2 separate regions of the Homo sapiens genome follow, and region 2 is linked to region 1. Evidence: fine-mapped expression QTL. Tissue or cell type: monocytes after R848. Region 1 holds a variant in brackets; the other region holds the start of a gene. All regions are shown on one strand. Distances are from middle to middle.

What was found. PIP is the estimated chance that this variant, and not a neighbour inherited with it, causes the effect.
Region 2: it holds the start of ZNF480, and the variant in region 1 is fine-mapped to the expression of ZNF480 in monocytes after R848 (Quach 2016, PIP 0.95).

Annotation. Positions count from the first base shown.
Region 1 is chr19:52,313,892-52,324,307 of GRCh38, forward strand. ZNF480 (zinc finger protein 480) reads left to right here. Exons shown (of 5, transcript NM_144684.4): 3 at 262-388; 4 at 1,943-2,071; 5 at 7,688-10,416. The coding sequence ends at 8,967. Among named protein-coding and RNA genes, the nearest start is that of ZNF610, 17 kb to the right of the region's middle. The variant ATGT/A (reference allele first, on the strand shown) is at 5,826.
Region 2 is chr19:52,292,266-52,301,955 of GRCh38, forward strand. ZNF480 (zinc finger protein 480) reads left to right here and starts at 4,904. Exons shown (of 5, transcript NM_144684.4): 1 at 4,904-4,958; 2 at 8,129-8,219. The coding sequence starts at 8,148. It overlaps ZNF766 (zinc finger protein 766), which reads left to right. Exons shown (of 4, transcript NM_001010851.3): 4 at 1-3,781. RefSeq lists enhancers at 4,966-5,015, 5,086-5,135.

The DNA of each region.
Region 1 (10,416 bases):
TTGATTGAACCCAGGAGGCGGAGGTTGCAGTGAGCCGAGATTGCACCACTGCACTCCAGCCTGGGCAACAGAGTAAGACTCTGTCTCAAAAAAAAGAAAAAAAACACATTTACAGACACATAACTACATCACAGATACCTTAATGGGGATTCGTCAGAACATTCTCTTCAATCCAGTTAATCTTTACAACTCCCTTCTCATTTTGAGTGAAGATTAATACCCTTTACATATCCTGTTGGTGAAATGTGGTTTTCATTTTAGGGACACTTAACATTCAGGGACGTGGCCATAGAATTCTCTCAGGCGGAGTGGAAATGCCTGGACCCTGCACAGAGGGCTTTATACAAGGATGTGATGTTGGAGAACTACAGGAACCTGGTCTCCCTGGGTGAGGATCATGCCCCTGCAGAAGCCGGGATCTGCCCTTGGTTATTTCAGCATTTTCCCTTGTGTGCCTCCTGGGAGCCCCTGCATTGTTTGACTGACATTAAGCAGGAGAATCACTTGAACCTGGGAGGCAGAGGTTTTGGTGAGCCGAGATCACGTCATTGCCAGCCTGCCAACAGAGTGAAACTCCGTCCCAAAAAAAAAAAAAAAAAAAAAAAAACCAAAAAAACCCTTATTGACTCAGGCTGGGATCCGTGGCTCACACCTGTAATCCCAGCACTTTGGGAGGCCAAGGCAGGAGGATCACTTGAGGTCAGGAGTTTGAGACCAGCCTGGCCAACATGGTGAAACCCCATCTCTACTAAAAATACAAAAATTAGCCGGGCATGGTGGTGGGAGCCTGTAATCCCAGCTACTTGGAAGGCTGAGTCAGGAGAATCTCTTGAACCCGGGAGGTGAAGGTTGCAGTGAGCCGAGAATGCACCATTGCACTCCAGCCTGGGTAACAAGAGTGAAACTCCGTCTCATTAAAAAAACAAACAAACAAACAAAAAACTAAAAACCTTGTTGACTCAGAAATGAAAAGCTCCATAGTGTTTTCTGGAGTTGAAATGTCCTTTTTCTTCAGATGTTCTGTCCCCTTCATTATACATCATTGGGTGGTACCAGGGCGGAAGTATGCATAAAACCTTTTTTGTTTGTTTTTGAGATTGAGTCTTGCTCTGTTGCCCTGGCTGGAGGGCACGTGATCTTGGCTTACTGCAGCCTCTGCCTCCCAGGCTTAAGCAATTCGCCTTAGCCTCCCTAGTAACTGGGATTACAGGCACGTGCCACCACACCTGGCTAATTTTTCTATATTTCATTTTTACAATGTTGGCCAGGCTGGTCTCAAAGTCCTGGGCTCAAGCAATCCACTTGCCTCAGCCTCCCGAAGTGCTGGGATTACAGGCATGAGCCCCCGCACCCAGCTGCATAAAACCTTATGGCAAACTTTTCAGATACCCACTTCCCTGTTTTCTACTCCTGTGCTTTGTTTTATGTTTTGTTTTTTTTTTTTGAGACAGAGTGTTTCACTCTTGGAGGCTGGAGTGCAATGGCGCGATCTTGGCTCACTGCAACCTCCGCCTCCTGGGGTCAAATGATTCTCCTGCCTTAACTGCTCGAGTAGCTGGGATTAGAGGCATGTGCCACCATGCTTGGCTAATTTTTTTTTTGTATTTTTAGTAGAGACCGAGTTTCTCTGTGTTGGTCAGGCTGATCTCGAACTCCCGACCTCAGGTGATCCACCCGTCTCGGCCTCCCAAAGTGCTGGGATTACAGGTGTGAGCCACCACGCCCAGCCTCTACTCCTGTGCTTTATACTCAGTAGTTCTTGGAAAGGGGCTTGATGTCTGCATGTTATAATATTCCCTAAGCATTCAGAAGGAGGCAGTCTATGGATGAATTTGTGAAATATTATTCTTGATTCATTTGTGATATCCTGTCTCCTTCCTACACATAGGGCTTGGATTTTGGAGATGCTACAGCACATTTTGATTTTTTTTTTTACAAACAGGAATCTCTCTTCCTGACCTGAATATTAACTCCATGTTGGAGCAAAGGAGGGAGCCCTGGTCTGGTGAGAGTGAAGTGAAAATAGCAAAAAATTCAGATGGGAGGGAGTGCATCAAAGGTGTGAACACAGGTAAGAGCTCAGATGGGCATGGTGGAAGCCATGCTGTTGTTTGGGCTTTTTTTTTGTTTTGTTTTGTCTAGTTTTGGTTTTTTATGTTTGTATTTTTGTTTGTTTTGTTTTTGAGATGGAGTTTCACTGTCATGAAACAGAGCCTGAGAGACAGAGCGAGACTCAGTTTCAAATAAATAAATAATTTTTTTGTTTATTTGACTGGAGATCTTTCTTTCTCTCTCTCTCTTTCTCTTTCTTTCTTTCTTTCTTTCTTTCTTCCTTTCTTCCTTTCCTTTATTTGAGATGGAATTTTGCTCTATTGCCCGGGCTGAAGTGCAGTGGCGCTATCTCAGTTCATTGCAACCTCTGCCTCCCGGGTTCAAGGGATTCTGCTACCTCAGCCTTCCAGGTATCTATGATTATGGTCACCTGCACCATGCCTGGCTAATTTTTGTTTGTATTTTCAGTTAAGACAGGGTTTCACTATGTTGGCCAGGCTGGTCTCGAACTCCTGACCTTAAGTGATCTATCTGCCTCTGCCTCCCAAAGTGCTAGAATTACAGGCATGAGCTACCGCGCCCAGCTTCTTTTTGTTTTTCAGATACAGGGGTCTTGCTATGTTGATTTTGAACCCCTAGGCTTAAGCAATCCTCCTGCCTCAGCCTCCATAAGTACTCTGATTACCGGCATGAGCCATGATGCCTAGTCTTATTTTTTTATTTCGAATTTAGATTTAATTGATTTACCAGGAATATTTAACTAATTCCCCCGACAATTTCACTGTCTCCCCTCCCGCTTTCTTGTCTGTTTGTGTGAATTTCAGTATTTTGGATACTCAAATGGAATCACACAGTATTTGTCTTTTTATGACTGGCTTATCTCACTTAGCGTAGTGTCTTTCAGGTTCATCTATTTTGTAGCACATCAAGAAATTTGTATATTCTTTTAGGACTGAATAATATTCTTCTATTTGTCTGTACCACAGTTTGTTTAACTATTCATCCATTGGTGGACACCTGCATTGCGCCCACCTTTTTATTATTTTTGAATAATGCTGCTATGAACATGGGTTTTTGTTGTTGTTGTTTTTTGAGACAGTGTCTCACTGTCTCGCCCAGGCTGAAGTGCAGTGGCGTGATCTTGGCTCACTGCAACCTCCACCCTCTGGGTTCAAGCGATTCTCCTGCCTCAGCCTCCCAAACAGCTAGGACTACAGGTGCACACCACCATACCCAGCTAGTTTTTGTATTTTTAGTAGAGACAGGGTTTCACCATATTGGCCAGGCTCGTCTTGAACTCCTGACCTCATGATCTACCTGCCTCAGCCTCCCAAAGTGCTGGGATTATAGGCGTGAGCTATCGTGCCTGGCCTTGACCATGGGTTTTTAAGTATCTCTTCAAGATGCTGTGTTTACTTTCATTTTATTTTTCATTTGTTTGTTTGAGATGGAGTTTCGCTTTTGTTGCCCAGGCTGGAGTGCAATGGTGCAATCTCGGCTAACTGCAACCTCCACCTCCTGGGTTCAAGCAGTTCTCCTGCCTCAGCCTCCTGAGCAGCTGGGATTACAGGTGTGTGCCACCACGCCCAGCTAATTTTTGTATTATTAGTAGAGACAGGGTTTCACCATGTTGACTAGGCTGGTCTCGAACTCCTCACCTCAGGTGATCTGCCTGCCTAGGCCTCCCAAAGTAGTAACATTAAGGGTGTGAGCCAGTGCGCCTGGCCTTTTTCTTTTTTATCTTTATACCCAGATGTGGAATTGTTGCCTATACTGATCATTTGATTTTGGATTCTTTGAGAAAATGTCATACTTGTTTCCATAGTGACTGCACCATTTCAATTTTCCACCAACAGTGGCACAAAATTCTCCTATTTCTCCATATTTTCGACAACACTTGTGATTTTCTGGTGTTTCATTTTTTTCCCTTTTCTTGACAAAACGTATTCTATATGGGTGTGAGGTGATATTCTTTATTGGTGTGAGGAAAAATATTCAGTTTTCTATTTGCATTTCTCTCTAATGATTTGTGATATTTTGCATTTTCTTATATGGTCGTATATCACCTTTGGAAAAATGTGTATTTCTTTCCACATTTCTTAATTCGTTATTTGTTTTGCTTTGTAGGACTTATTTATATATTTTTATTTTATTATTTTAAATAATTATTTATTTATTTTTTGAGACGGAGTCTTGCTCTGTCACCCAGGCTGGATGCAGTGGCGTGATCTCGGCTCACTGGTACCTGCGCCTCCCAGGTTCAAGCAATTCTCCCACCTCAGCCTCCCAAGTAGTTGGGATTACAGGTGCACACCACCATGCCTGGCTAAATTTTTGTATCTTTAATAGAGATGGGGTTTCACTATGTTGGCCAGGCTGGTCTTGAACTCCTGACCTCAGGTGATCTACCTGCTGCAGCCTCTCAAAGTGCTGGGATTACAGGCATGAGCCACCACATCCGGCCTATATATATTTTAGATATTAAGTTTTTATCACAGATATGATATGCAAATATTTTCTCACATATGGTAGGTTTTCTTTACATTGTGGTAATTGTTTTCTTCTATCCACAATAGTTCTCAATTTTGTCATAGTGCATCGTGTGTATATTTACCTTCTTTCCTGTACTATCAATTTTATATCTGGGGAAATGTTGAATCCAATCTCATGAAGCTTTTTACCTATGGTTTTTTCTAGGAGTTTTATCGTTTTAGGTCATGAATAGACTTTAAGTTAATTTTTGCATGGGGTGTAAAGTAAGGGTTCAGCCTCATTCCTTTGCTTGTGGGCATCCTTTTTCTTCAGCACTATTTGATGAAGTGACTGTCCTTTCCTTGTTACATGGTCTTGACATTTTGATTGAACATTATTCTACCAAGTATTTGAGGGTTTGTTTCTGGCTTCTCTATTCTTGCTTTTTTTTTCATTTTTGCATGGGGGGATGGATTCTCGCTCTGTCATCCAAGCTGGAGTGCAGCAGTGAGATCTTGGCTCACTGCAACCTCTGCCTCCTGGGTTCAAGTGATTCTCCTGCCTCAGCCTCCCGAGTAGCTGGGATTACAGGCATGTGCCACCATGCCTGGCTAATTTTTGTATTTTTAGTAGAGATGGGGTTTCACCACGTTAGTCAGTCTGGTCTCAAACTCCTGACCTCAAGCAATCTGCCCGCCTCGGCCTCCCAGAACCCTGAGATTACAGGTGTGAGCCACCACACCTGGGTCATTTTTTACTTTAATGGAGAATTTTATCCTCTCATTTGGGTTACCAGTACTGTCTGGAATCCTTTTATTTCATTTTGAAGGGCTCCCTGTAGCATTTCTTGTTGGACAGGTCTAGAGTAGTAATGAACTTTCTTAGCTCTTCTTTATCGAGGAAAATCTAAATTTCTCCTTTATTTTTGCAGGTGACTTTTGCTAAATATAGTATTCTTGGTTGATTTTAAGCACTTTCAATATGTCATCTCACTGCCTTCTGGCAGGCAAAGTTTCCGCTGGAGAAAGTACATAGTCTTATACCTTTTCCTCTAAATGGCAAATATCTTTTTTGTTGCTCCTGTCAAAATTCTTCCTCTGTCTTTGATGTTTGATAATTTGCTTATAATGTATCTCTGTGTGAATGTCCTTGGGTTCATTTTAATTTGAATGGTCAAGCTTCTTGAATTGTATATTCAGGTCTTTCTTCAGAATTGGGATTTGGACAATTATTTGGACATTATTTCTTCAGTTGCAATTTCTGATCCTCTGTCTTCTCCTTGTGAACCTCTAATAATTTGT[ATGT/A]TGTTGTGCTTGAGAGCATCCGAAAAATGTATTAGCGTTTATTTGCTTTTCTTCTCTGTTTTTTGTTTTTGGTCTTTGTAGCTGATACTGTGTTTTTTTTTTTTTTTTTTTTTTTTAAATTAGAGTCTTGCTCTGTAGCCCAGGCTGGAGTGTAATGGCTCCATCTTGGCTCACTGCAATCTCTGCCTCCCAGGTTCAAGCGATTCTCCTGCCACAGCCTCCTGAGTAGCTGGGATTACAGGTGCATGCCCCCATGTCCATCTAATTTTTGTATTTTTAGTAGAGACAGGCTTTCACCATGTTGGTCAGGCTGGTCTCAAACTCCTGACCTAGTGATCCTCCTGCCTTGGCCTCCCAAAGTGCTGGGATTACAAGCGTGAGCCACTGTGCCTGGTGGAGCTGATACTTTTGAATAACTGACCTTTAAGTTTGCTCATTCTTTTTGGTGCTCTATCCATCTGCTGTTGAGCACCTAATGAATTTTTACTTTATTTATTGTGTTTCAGCTCCAGAATGTTTTTTGTTTCCTCCTTTGTTTAATATCCTCCTTCTCATGTATTGTTTTTCTGATTTCATTTAGTTGTCTATCTCTCCTTGATATCTTTTAGCTCATTAAGAATCTTAAGGCAGTTGCTTTAAATATTTGTCAAGGGCCAGGTGCAGTGCCTCATGCCTGTAATCCCAACACTTTGGGAGGCCAAGGCAGGAGGATCACTTGAGCCAAGGAGTTCGAGACCAGTCTAGGCAATATCACGAGCCCTTGTCTCTAAAAGAACACAGAAAAAACTTGCTGAGGCTGGATGTGGTGGCTCACGCCTGTAATCCCAGCACTTTCGGAGGCTGAGGTGGCCGGATCATGGTCAGGAGTTCCAGACCAGCCTGGCCAACATGGTAAAACCCCATCTCCACTAAAAATACAAAAATTAGCTGAGCATGTTGGCCGGCACCTGTAGTCCCAGTTACTCGGGAGGCTGAGGCAGGATAATTGCTTGAACCTGGAGGTGGAGGTTGCAGTGAGCTGAGATTGCATCATTGTACTCCAGCCTGGGCAACAAGAGCAAAACTCCATCTTAAAAACAAACAAAAGAAATAACAAAAAACCCCAAAACTTGCTGAATGTGGTGGTGCATGCCTGTAGACCCAGCTACTCAGGAGGCTGAAGCAGGAGAGATCGCTTGAGCTGGGGAAGTAGATGCTGCAGTGAGCTACACTATACCACTGCACTCCAGCCTGGACGATAGAGTGAGACCCTGTCTTAAATAAATAAATAAATAAATATTTGTCTAGTAATTTAGAGAGCTGCCTGTCTTTTTCTAGGTTTGGCTTTATTTATTTTTTAGCCATATTTCTCTTTCCTTTCATAGGCCTTGTAATTTTTGGATTAGGTTTGGTAAAATAACTGCTTCTCTCAGTTGTTTTGTATAAGACTTGGTCAGAGGGAGATCTTTTCTAATTAGCCTGTTGTAAAGGGTGTGGGAACACTCACTCCTTTTCTGGGGATGTGCCTTTCCTAGCTTTGTGCATGTACTGTTATTATGTATACTGCTTCTCTTGAGTGTCTTATTTTCCCTAGAGACTTGTCCCTTCTTTTTCTCAGAAGGTTTCAATTCCTGTTCTATCTCTCTACTCATAATCCCTCTCAAACTCACCTGTAATCCTCCTGACTCCTACAGATTTCCCAGAACTCCAGTGCATCACCTTACCCTTTTCTATTTTCAGCACAACCAGCGTGATGTACAAAGTGTGCTGATATTTCTTCCAATGTCTGAGTCAGATGAGGCAGATTCTAGTATTTTCATCAGACTCTAAACATGCCAGAATTATGGGGTCTGAATTTTACTTTTTTCTTGCTTTCCTAGGGAGCAGCTATGCATTGGGAAGCAATGCAGAAGACAAACCAATTAAAAAACAACTTGGAGTATCCTTTCACTTACATCTGTCTGAACTGGAGCTATTTCCAGATGAAAGGGTAATAAATGGATGTAATCAAGTTGAAAACTTTATCAACCACAGTTCCTCTGTTTCCTGTCTTCAAGAAATGTCTTCCAGTGTCAAAACCCCCATTTTTAATAGGAATGATTTTGATGATTCTTCATTTCTCCCACAAGAACAGAAAGTACACCTTAGAGAAAAACCTTATGAATGTAATGAGCATAGCAAAGTCTTTAGAGTATCTTCCAGCCTTACTAAACATCAAGTAATCCATACTGTAGAGAAACCTTACAAATGTAATTCATGCGGCAAGGTCTTTAGTCGCAATTCACACCTTGCAGAACATTGTAGAATTCATACTGGAGAGAAACCTTACAAATGTAATGTCTGTGGCAAGGTTTTTAGTTACAATTCAAACTTTGCACGACATCAAAGAATTCATACCAGAGAGAAGCCGTATGAATGTAATGAATGTGGTAAAGTCTTCAGTAATAATTCTTACCTTGCACGACATCAAAGAATTCATGCTGAAGAGAAACCTTACAAATGTAATGAATGTGGTAAAGGCTTCAGTCATAAGTCATCTCTAGCAAATCATTGGAGAATTTATACTGGAGAGAAGCCTTACAAATGTGATGAATGTGGCAAGGCCTTCTATAGGATTGCGCTCCTTGTACGACATCAGAAAATTCATACTGGAGAGAAACCTTACAAATGTAATGAATGTGGAAAGGTCTTTATTCAAAATTCGCACCTAGCACAACATTGGAGAATTCATACAGGAGAGAAACCTTACAAATGTAATGAATGTGGAAAAGTATTTAATCAACTTTCAAATCTTGCACGACATCGAAGAATTCATACTGGAGAGAAGCCTTACAAATGTAATGAATGTGGTAAAGCATTTAGTGAGTATTCAGGCCTTTCAGCCCATCTTGTAATCCACACTGGAGAGAAGCCTTACAAATGTAGTGAATGTGGCAAGGCATTCAGACACAAGTTATCACTAACCAATCATCAGAGAATCCATACTGGAGAAAGACCTTACAAATGTAATGAATGTGGCAAGGTCTTCAATCGAATTGCACACCTTGCACGACATCGGAAAATTCATACTGGAGAGAAACCTTACAAATGTAATGAGTGTGGCAAGGCCTTTAGTCGCATTTCATACCTAGCACAACATTGGACAATTCATATGGGATAGAAACTACAAATGCAACAAATGCGTCAAAGAATTTAGTGTGCACTCAAGCCTTACTACCCATCTTTTATTCCATACTGCAAAGAAATTTTGCAAATGTAAAGAATATGACAAGGTCTTCAAACACAAGTTTTTCTAATAACTCATTAGAGAATTTATACTGGAGAGACTTCACAATTATAATAAATGTGTGGAAAAGTCTTCAAAAAAATTTCACACCTTGCAAAAGGAGATCTAAAAAACACAATCAGAAATGACAAAGGGGACATTACCACCAACCCCACAGAAATACGAAAAACCCTCAAAGATTACTATAAACACCTGTATGCACACAAACTAGAAAACCTAGAAAAAATTAATAAATTCCTTGAAAGATATAACCCCCCAAGATTGAACCAAGAAGAAATTGCATCCCTGAACAGACCAATAATGAGTTCCAAAATTTAATCACTAATTAAAAATCTATCAAACAAAACTCTGGACCAGACAGATTTATAGTTGAAGCCTACGAGATGTATAAAGAAAAGCTGTTACCAATCTTACTGAAACTGTTCAAAAACATGGATGCAGAGGGACTCCTCCCTATCTGATTCTATGAGGCCAGCATCATTCTAATACCAAAACCTGACAGGCACAATGAAAAAAGAAAACTTCAGGCTGGTACTCCTGACGAATATAGGTGCCAAAATCCTCAGCAAAATACTAGTAAACCAAATCCATCTGCACATCAAAAAGCTAATCCAACATTATCAAGCAGGCTTTAGTGTTGGGCTGCAAGGTTGGTTCAGTATACACAAATCAATAAATGTGATTTATCACATACACAGAACTAAAAACAAAAACCACATGACCATGATCATCTCTTTAGATGCAGAAAGGTTTTTAATAAAATTCAACATCCCTTCATTTTAAAAACCCTCAACAAATTACACATTGAGGGAACATACTTCAATAAGAACCATCTATGCTGGACTCACAGCCAAATTAATACTGAACAAGCAAAAGCTGGAAGCATTCCCCTTGAGAACTGGAAAATGACAGGGATGACCACTCTCACCACTCCGATTCAACATAGTACTGGAAGTCCTAAGCTTAGTGATCAGGCAAGATAAAGATATGAAAGGCATATATAAATAGGAAGAGGGGAAGTCAGTTTCTCTTGCAGAAGATATAATTCTGTATTTAGAAAACCTGTTGTCTCTGCCCAAAGGCTCCTAGATCTGATAAACAACTTCAAAAAAGTTTCAGGATACAAAATCTGTGTACAAAAATTAGTTGCATTTCTATACACCAGTAATGTCCAAGCTATGAACCAAATCAAGAATGGAATCCCATTCACAGTAGCCACAAAAAGTATAAAATACCTAGGAATACAGCCAACCAGGTAAGTGAAAGATTTCTACAATGAGAATTACAAAGCAGTGCACAAAGAAATCAGAAACAATAAAAATT
Region 2 (9,690 bases), 22 kb before region 1:
ATTGTCTGATTTAGAGACCATGGAGGTGGACAGAGAATAACAAAACCGTGATGGCAGTCATCATGCTTATTGCAGTTAGCACACACTTTTCCTGACAGGCACAGTGCTGCTGTGCTCTACAAATGACCATGAAATAGAGCACGCCATGACTTTAGGACACAGGGATTTTTATGGGAAGAGAGTTCATCAGGGACTGATTACGTAGGAGAGACGATGCAGGGGAAATGGTGGCCACCGTCTCCATTGAATAGCAATAGCTGCTGTTTAGCAAAGACTGATTAAAAAGTACTCTGATTTTTCAAATGGAAGAGAGAACAGTTAAATCAGAGTAGAGAGTTTAATCAAAACTACCAGTGGAACATGTTCTTGAGTAGGATTCACATTTAACTGCTGGCATAATTTGCAACTGTTGGATTTTCTCATGTTTGGAACAATAAAGTTGAAATTTTCCAAAGTGTGAATGATTTACCTTCTTTCTACCAATATTGTTTTATCTCGTCTCAGGAGGATACTTTATAGCAGACAATAATAAGGCACCATTAGGATTTTTAAATTAATTTATTTTTAAAATTAAAGTTCTAGTGTACATGTCCACAACATGCAGGTTTGTTACATAGGTATACATGTGCCATATTCGTTTGCTGCACCCATCAACTTGTCATTTACGTTAGATATTTCTCCTAATGTTATCCCTCTGCCAGCCCCCCACCCCCCGACAGGCCCCGGTGTGTGATGTTACCCGCCTTGTGTCCAGGTGTTCTCATTGATCAATTCCCACCTATGAGTGAGAACATGGGGTGTTTGGTCTTCTGTCACTGTGATAGTTTGCTGAGAATGATGGTTTCCAGCTTCATCAATGTCCCTGCAAAGGACATGAACTCATCCTTTTTATGGCTGCATAGTATTCCTTTTTTTTTTTTTTTTTTGAGATGAAGTTTTGCTCTGTCACTCAGGCTGAAGTGCAATGGCACGATCTTGGCTCACTGCATCCTCTGCCTCCCGGGTTCAAGTGATTCTCCTGTCTACACCTCCCAAGTAGCTGGATTACAGGCATGCACCACCATACCCGGCTAATTTTTTTGTATTTTTAGTAGAGATGGGGTTTCACCATGTTGGCCAGGCCGGTCTCGAAGTCCTGACCTCGGGTGATCCAGCCACCTCGGGTTCCCGAAGTGCTAAGATTACAGGCATGAGCCACGGCGCCTGGCCAGGATTTTTAAGGTTGAAGCATCCACAACAATTTTGTGTGTGAAATGAAATGACATGCACTTTTGGGTATATACACTTGGGTAAGTATGATTTTGGGTAATAATACTTAGTACTTAAGTTATTCTCTCTACTCTTTGTTTTTGTTTTTTGTTTGTTTTGTTTTGTTTTGAGATGGAGTTTCGCTCTTGTTTCCCAGGCTGGAGTGCAATGGTGTGATCTCGGCTCACCGCAACCTCCGCCTTCCAGGTTCAAGTGATTCTCCTGCCTCAGCCTCCCGAGTAGCTGGGATTACATGCATGTGCCACCATGCCCAGCTAATTTTGTTTTTTTAGTAGAGACAGGGTTTCTCCATATTGGTGAGGCTGGTCTCGAACTCCTGACCTCAGGTGATCTGCCCACCTCGGCCTCCCAAAGTGCTGGGATTATAGGCATGAGCCACCACACTTGGCCTACCTCTCTACTCTGCCCTAAGATGCTTTTGTGGGTAAAGTGAAAATCACATAACAGTGCAGCTTCATCATCATATGCCCTCAATGTTCATCACTGTTGATAAACATGCACTGTATTATGTTTCTGTGTGCCTTTTTCTTGTGTGCCAAGTAAGACCCATGGCAGGCACCTTCATTTTCAGGAAGCGAAAATACAGATACAGTAATATGGAAAATAGGACAAAGTGTGGACTTCAGGATGAAAATATTGTAACAATCTTGCTGTTGACCTCGTAGCGCTCAGTGACATAATTTGAAAAAATATTAATGTTCAGAAATGTTCTCTTGAGGATGAACACACAGATTGGGAATTTCGTTTTGCTTTGGTAGATTAACTAGAAACTTCACATTTTCACCCTTATAACCTTTTTGGTAATTTGAACTTTTGATCATTCTTCTGGAACTGCTTTGACATCCACCTGAAGTTTGGTTTGGGTATTGAGAATGATGATGCCATTCACTAATGTGATCTCAAAATGTTTACTCCATAATGAGGCTTTCTGGGGAGAGCAGGGTAGACTTCCCCGGTTGGTCCAAATATGACTAGGGAATCGGCATAGGTGACTGGCTTGGGGTATGATGATTGTTAAGGGATAGGGCTTGGGCAGGGGTGCCCACTTGTGGTTTGAACTTTCAGCTGGTGCCAAAGGAGTGGGCACTGAGGATTTTTCAGTTGACCAGATGGGCAGAATAGGAAGAGGGAGTGCAGAGGTGTAAAAGGCGTTGGTGTTCAGACATCACAAAATGCAGTCAACTCTAGGACAACTCTAGCTTCCTCTGGAAGCTCCTGCCATCTTGGTTAGGAAAGACTCTGATTTTCTTCATGATAATATCTTACGTTCCTTTTATAGTTACAGATACAGGTCTCATTGCACAATATGATTGTTGAAAACACTTGTGAAATTTTTTTAGTAAAATTGCCTAAGATACTTTTTATAGTAGACAATGAAAATTAGTGTGTGGGTTTATAATAAATATAATGTATTATATAATATGATTAAAATATATTTGTTATAAATATGATATTACTAGAAGAGCATTTTTCCAAAAGCTATGGAAATGTCATTTTCCCGTTACAGCATCAAGCAATATATTCCATGGTTCATTTTCAACTCTAATAAAATTATATTTTGTGTTTATATATGCACGTATAGACACATATATAATATTTTTTTTTTACTTTTTTCTTTTTCTGTACATTGCATCCAGATGCTATGCTTGTTTGTTTTTTTTTTTGAGACAGAGTCTTGCTCTGTCACCCAGGCTGGAGTGCAGCGGTGTGATCTTGGCTCATTGCAGCCTCCGCCTCCCAGGCTCAAGTGATTCTCCTGCCTCGGCCTCCCGAATAGCTGGGATTACAGACATGCACCATCACCACACCTGGCTAATTTTTGTATTTGTAATAGAGATGGGGTTTCACCATGTTGGCCAGGCATGGTCTTGAACTCCTGACTTCAGGTGATCCACCCGCTTCGGCCTCCCAAAGTGTTGGGATTACAGGCATGAGCCACCATGCCCGGCCAGATGCTATGCTTAATACATTTTTTCCGAATGTCACTCTAGTGAAAATTTTAGGGGACACAAAAATGAGACTGTTGTTTGGAGACAATATTTTTTGACAAGAGTATGCACAAGACAATGGCAGGTATAAACGTTTTATTGTAAATATGAAAAAGGAAAAAATGCTTTCACTATATTAGAGGACTTGAAGTAACGTGAAGTGATTCCAACCCTTTATCTTTATTTTATTTATTTATTTTATTATTTATTTTTTTGAGATGGAGTTTCACTCTTGTTGCCTAAGCTGGAGTGCAATGGAGTGATCTCAGCTCACTGCAACCTTCACCTCCCGGGAGCATGCTGCTCTATCTTTTTTTTCAGATGTTTGAGCTATTCCAGGTTTTTTGGGATTTCTGTTGGTTTGTTTTGTTTTTTGCTTTTCTACATAATTGTTTGGATAATCTTGTCAGTATCTACGAAGTGCCTTGATAGTAAATATATTAACCCTGTGTATCAATTTGGGGTAATTTCACATTTTTTTCTATGTTGAGTTTATCAATAAATTGATATTGTATATGTCTCTATCTGGGTGTCTTTGATTTCTTTCATCAGCATTTTGTAGTTTTAAAATCCTGAGAATGTTAAATTAACATATTTTTTGACTTTTTTTTTTTTTTTTTGAGACAGAGTCTTGTTCTGTTGCCTGGTCTGGAGTGCAGTGGCACAATCTCAGCTCACTGCAACCTCCGCCTCCCAGGTTCAAGCGATTCTCCTGCCTCAGCTTCCTGAGTAGCTGGGATTACACGCGTATGCCACCATGCCCAGCTAATTTTTGTATTTTTAGTAGAGATGGGGTTTTACCGTGTTGGCCAGGCTGGTCTCGAACTCCTGACCTCAAATGATCCACCTGCCTTGACCTCCCAAAGTGCTGGGATTACAGGTGTGAGCCACCTCGCCCGGTTAATGCTTTTTTAAAACCAACAATTGGTGACCTAAATTCTCACTGGCCTTAGCCCTCCATGCCCCTGGTGCTGTCACTAGAAAACTCTCTGGAGCTGAGCACAGGGTTACCTCTGTCCCTCCCGAAAGAACAGGGAATAGAAAAGGAGAGGATTTCTATTCTGCTTTGTGGGCCGTCAGCATGAAATTGCACATTCTGCCCAGGCAGGGCTTTGCAGTTCATGTATTAACTTGCGTCGCTTTCACAGACAATCCCAGGGCTTAATTAAATTGCTAAATTTAGTTTTTTATGTATTTATTTGAGAGACTGAGTCTCTGTCGCCCAAGCTGGAGTGCAGTGGCCGTCATAACTCAGTGTAAACTCGAACTCCTGGGCTCAAGCGATCCTCCCGCCTCAGTCTTCGGGGTAGCCGGGACTACAGGTGCCCGACCGCACGGTCGGCTTAAGATTAACTTTAATAGCAGGAATTTTCCTGGATCTAATCATTAGCCGACTTTGCTCAGTCCCGGCAAGAGTACAGTTCCGAGACAGCTGAGTTGCTCCAGTCTCCTTGACAGGTCTCCCCGGCAAAACCCGGAAAACAGAGGCACTGGAAGCGAGGCGGAGGGAAGCGCAAGCCCCACTCCGCCCCGCCCCCGCCCCCGCCCCCGCCCCCGCCCCCGCCCCCGCCCCCGCCCCCGCCCCCGCCCCCGCCCCCGCCCCCGCCCCCGCCCCCGCCCCGCTCGGACCCCTCCGCTGCGCGCGCAGTTTCCCACAAACCCGGAAGCGGATCGCGTGGAGTGAAGGTCACGCCGCGGCGCGTGAGTTTCCCTTTGTGTAAATTAATCTGCGCTTCCCAACTCCCCCGCGCTTCTGTACCCGGGATCTGAGGGGCCACACAGACCTTGAAATCCTCGCACCGCTCCCTCTACCCCGACCAAATTCAGGCGTCTCCGTGAGAGTCAGGCGGTCGCTTCCCTGTGTGTTTAAATCGCTCGGCGGCGGGTCCTGTCCCCCGTCCTTCTGCCACAGGGCCATGTAGTCACCTCCTGTCGCGGAGTTTTCCTGTTTCAAGTCCTTCAGTGATGCTTACATCCGCCCCGCACAGCGTAAAGTCCTCCCCCGCTAGGCGGATTCCGGTCTATGCGGTCCCCCAAGCCTCGCCTTTGTTGGCCCTGGAGCACAGCGCTCCAATCTCAATCCAGGAGAAGCCGCGTCTTCTGCCCAGTGCTGGGATTCTGCAGACGCCACCCATCTCTTGATCCAGACCCTACCTTTACCCTCCTTGATACGGGGCCCCGCTACTCCCCAGGCCTCCTCTTCCCAGACACCGCTTCTCCTAACCCTGCGTGTGGGGAGGTGACTTACTCTGTCTCTTGACATCCAGTGTTCTTGCGGGCCAAATAACACCCCACTGAAAAGGTGTTCTGCTTGTGGACATCGGATCCCAATTCCTTCCATGTGAATGTGTGCAGAAAGAGAGACGGAGAGCGAGGGAGAAGAAAGAGAAAAATTTTGAAGGAGAAAAGAAGATTGAGGGAGAGCCGTAAGCAGATGGCAAAGTAGAGAGTGGATGGAGGATTTGCAGAGACAGCGAATGAAGCCGAGAAAGTAGCAGGGGGAAAAAAGCAACTGGAGAAATGCAGAGAAAAGTTCCATCTCCGGAGAGATGAAGGACAGCAAGATAGTGAGAGGGGCAGCAAAGTGGGAAGTTCCTCAGTTTGAGAGTGGGGGAGAGGGGGAGGGATTTGGAGCCAGGGCAGACAGAGCAGCGTGGTGCTGGGACAGCAAGAGGAGTCAGCTGGTGACAACGAGAGCAGAGGGAGAACCACAGCAGGTGGAGGCCTGGGATCTCAGGGTGCCAGAGAGTGGGGACAAGGGGGTGTAACAGAAAAGAAGGGATTTAACAGAGAGAGCAGAGGGGGAGTAGAGTCAGGGGAAGAGGCAAGACCGGGCACAGTGGCTCACGCCTGTAATCCCAGCACTTTGGGAGGCCAAGGTGGGTGGATCACGTGAGGTCAGGAGTTTGAGACCAGCGTGGGCAACATGGTGAAACCCCATCTCTACTAAAAATGCAAAAATTAGCCGGGCGTCAGCGCGCGCGTGTAATCCCAGCTACTCAGGAGGCTGAGGCAGGAGAATTGCTTGAACCCGGGAGGCGGAGGTTGCAGTGAGCTGAGATTGCGCCATTGCACTCCAGGCTGGGCGACAAGAGCAAAACTCCGTCTCAGGGAAAAAAAAAAAAAAGAGACAAATAGGTGGAGAATGGGATGATCAAAGATTGAGCAGAAAGTTTGGAAGAGGGGTGAAACAAGTTGCCAGAATGGAGCAGAACAGGTGGAAGAGAAGGAATAGAAGGAAGAAGGGGAGAAACATCAGGAGAAGAGAGGGGCTCAAAATGAGCAGAATCTTAGGGGAAAAATAAAGGGGGAAAAAAGCTAGAGAAAGAAGGTGAGAATGAGAGATACGTACAGAATGAGGGAGGGAAACACAGTACCCAGAAAAGAGGGAACCCTGGGTGCAGATGAACGGTGAGTTGATTGGATATTATGATTAAGTTGTGACATTGATTTATCTATTTATAATTTGATAATATGAAATATACTTTAAAAATACAGATGAAAATGGATATGCAAAACTCCTGTCTGTAAGGCTGGTGCATTTTATAATTCTTGGCATCAGACTTTAGCTTCCACTCACATTCCCTATTCAGGCACAGGTCAGTGACTTGAGTCATTCAGGTGTGGGTCACCCACTTTCCTTTTCCTGGGATGGGGTAGGGTGTGGGCGAGTGTAAAAGATAGCAGGAAAACCAAAGTGTTTTTCCTACTCTTGCAGTCAACACAATAGTGAACACTCAACACAGAATGCTTCATATCTGATGAACAAAATGTGTGGGGATTTCTTCCCACCAACAAGCAATTCGTCAGACACCGCCTGGGTGATCCGTAATTTCAGTCAAGTTGACACTGTCTACTTGAAGTTAGCATCAGATCCCACAGGTTGGGGGCTCAGTTCCACAAGGCTGCCGCTACTTCACGTGCTGGTTGTAAGTTCCTGGTTGGGACCTGAACTTCAACCAAACATCTAAAAATTGAAGATTCCCTTGACCCTTTGCTCAGATTTTATTAATTTGTTAGCCTCATTCACAGAACTCAAGGAAGCATTTTGCTTAGTTTTACCCATTTGCTATGAAGAATATTGCAAAAGATACAGATGACTAGCCCGATGGAAGAACCCTCCTAGCAAATTAATCAAAAGAAGGGGCTTTGGGATACCCTGATTTTTTTTTTCTTTTGTTTTGTTTTGAGACAGAGTTTCACTCTTGTTGCCCAGGCTGGAGTGCAATGGCATGATCTCAGCTCACTGCAACATCCATCTCCCAGTTTCAAGCATTTCTCCTGCCTCAGCCTCCCAAGTAGCTGGGATTATAGGTGTGTGCCACCACGCCCAGCTAATTTTTGTATTTTTAGTAGAGACGAGGTTTCACAATGTTGGCCAGGGTGGAATAAATGGAGTTCAGTACTGTTTGAAGTTCCAGGCATCCAATGGGGGTCTTGGGACATCTTCCCCATGGATACGGGGATTCCAGTGTGTTCTGTCTCTGGTGCTGAGCACCAAGGCTCTGTGTCCTCCATTTCTGAGGGATTACATGAGCCTGGGATCCATAGAGAGGAGAGGAGGGGCTGTGCTCTGCATGGGGTTTGGTCAGGGCTGGGTCTGGCCCTGAAGGGGAGCTTAGACCAGGCCAGCTCCCCACTGCTGCAGCGTGCGTGTGGGCATCTCTAGGAGGGGAGCAGGTTCTGAAGACGAGTAAAAAACTCACTTGTTGTTCTTCCTGTAGGAGTTTCTTGTCTCTGCATCAACTCTGGTGCAGTGGGCAGCAGAGGACATCTTTCCGCAGGGTGAGGTCTAACCTGTGTGTGTGATTGTGGCACAGGAAAAGGGTGTGTTGATTCTAAGCCCTAAACAGCATATTTTTGACATTTAGGATTGACTTCTAAAGAGTCATGCTGTGTGATGAAAAAGCCCAGAAGAGAAGGAAGAGGAAAGCAAAGGAGTCAGGGATGGCTCTTCCTCAGGTGAGATGATATTCTCGGTGGATTGTTCTGTCTCCTTTCTTTCAGAAACGCTGGGCCTTCGAGTTGGGAGTCTTCTCTGAGTCTGAAGTGTCCTGCCTGACAGGTTTGCTCACGCTTACCTATGCCTTCCCTCAGTGCCGAGACCAGCTTGGTCGTGGGGACCCTAACCTAGTGGCACTAGAGGAATTAAAGACACAGACACAAGAATAGAGTGTAAAGTGGGATCAGGGGCCAACAGCCTTCAGAGCTGAGAGCTGCGAACAGGGTTTGACCCACATATTTATTGACAGCAAGCCATTGATAAGCATTGTTTCTATAGATTATAGATTAACTAAAAGCATTCCTTATGGGAAACAAAACATTCTTAGCAAGGAGTAGAGAAACAGTCTTTGGCTAATTATCTGCAGCAAAAACGTGTTAAGGCACAGGCCACTCATGCTATTGTTTGTGGTTTGAGCAGTTTTCCACTCCGGGCAGGCCAGGTGTTCCTTGTCCTGCTCCAGTAAGCCAACAGCTTCTAGCAGTGTGTGTCATAGCCATCACAAGCACGTTTCATTGCTGCAAAAATCCTGCTTATGGCCAATTTCTTTAAAGCCTGTTGCCAGCATGTTCCCCTTTCTGTTTTTGCAAAGTGACAAAGGCAAAGGCTGCTTTGTCACGGTGGGCTACTTCTCACAGGATTCGGGATTCGGGATTTGGATCTGCATGCTACACAAAGACAAACAACACAGATTAAAAGCACAATCATCATTGAAATCAGGGAGCCTCCAATTGTCTTGATCCATTTTAACGGGTTAATAGCTGCTAATCTGTCTGCAGCTCCTTCAAGCTCTTTAGTTCCTGGCATTAGCATCAGATGTGCCTGAGAGGCTTGGAATACTTGTTCCTTCAGTTTTGTAATATCTAAAGATAAATTTCCAGTATGACCCTTTAAATGTCTCTTAACTCTTTCCTACTCATGCTCTGTTTCATTATACAGATGAGGAGTAATGCAAAAATCAGAAGTATTCCAATCACATTGTATCTGCATTCTATATTCTAGACTAACTACTTGATCTCCTAGCCGCATTACAGTTTATCGGAGATCATTGATTTGATTAGCTAGTTTTCAGTCTGTGTTAGTTTGGGAATTCCACTGCAAAGTAGAATTTTTCTGCCAATTATTTACGTAGTCTGCTCTTTGTACTGTGGAATGCAAAGTAACTCCAGCTACCGTGGCAGTAGCTGTGACAGCAATCAATCCCATAATGATTAAAATTAAAGTGGCAATGAAACACCGAGAGTACCTCAAACTCTTTTGAAGAATTTCAGTAATGTATGCACAGAAGGAGAGGCTTCCCAAGGACAGGAAAGCTTTACAGGTATCCATACTCCTTCTCAGGCTCTTACCACTAAAATAGAATGATGAGTATTATACAGGGAAGAATTCAAGAAAACAATGTACATTCTTGACAAGTCACATGATGATTAG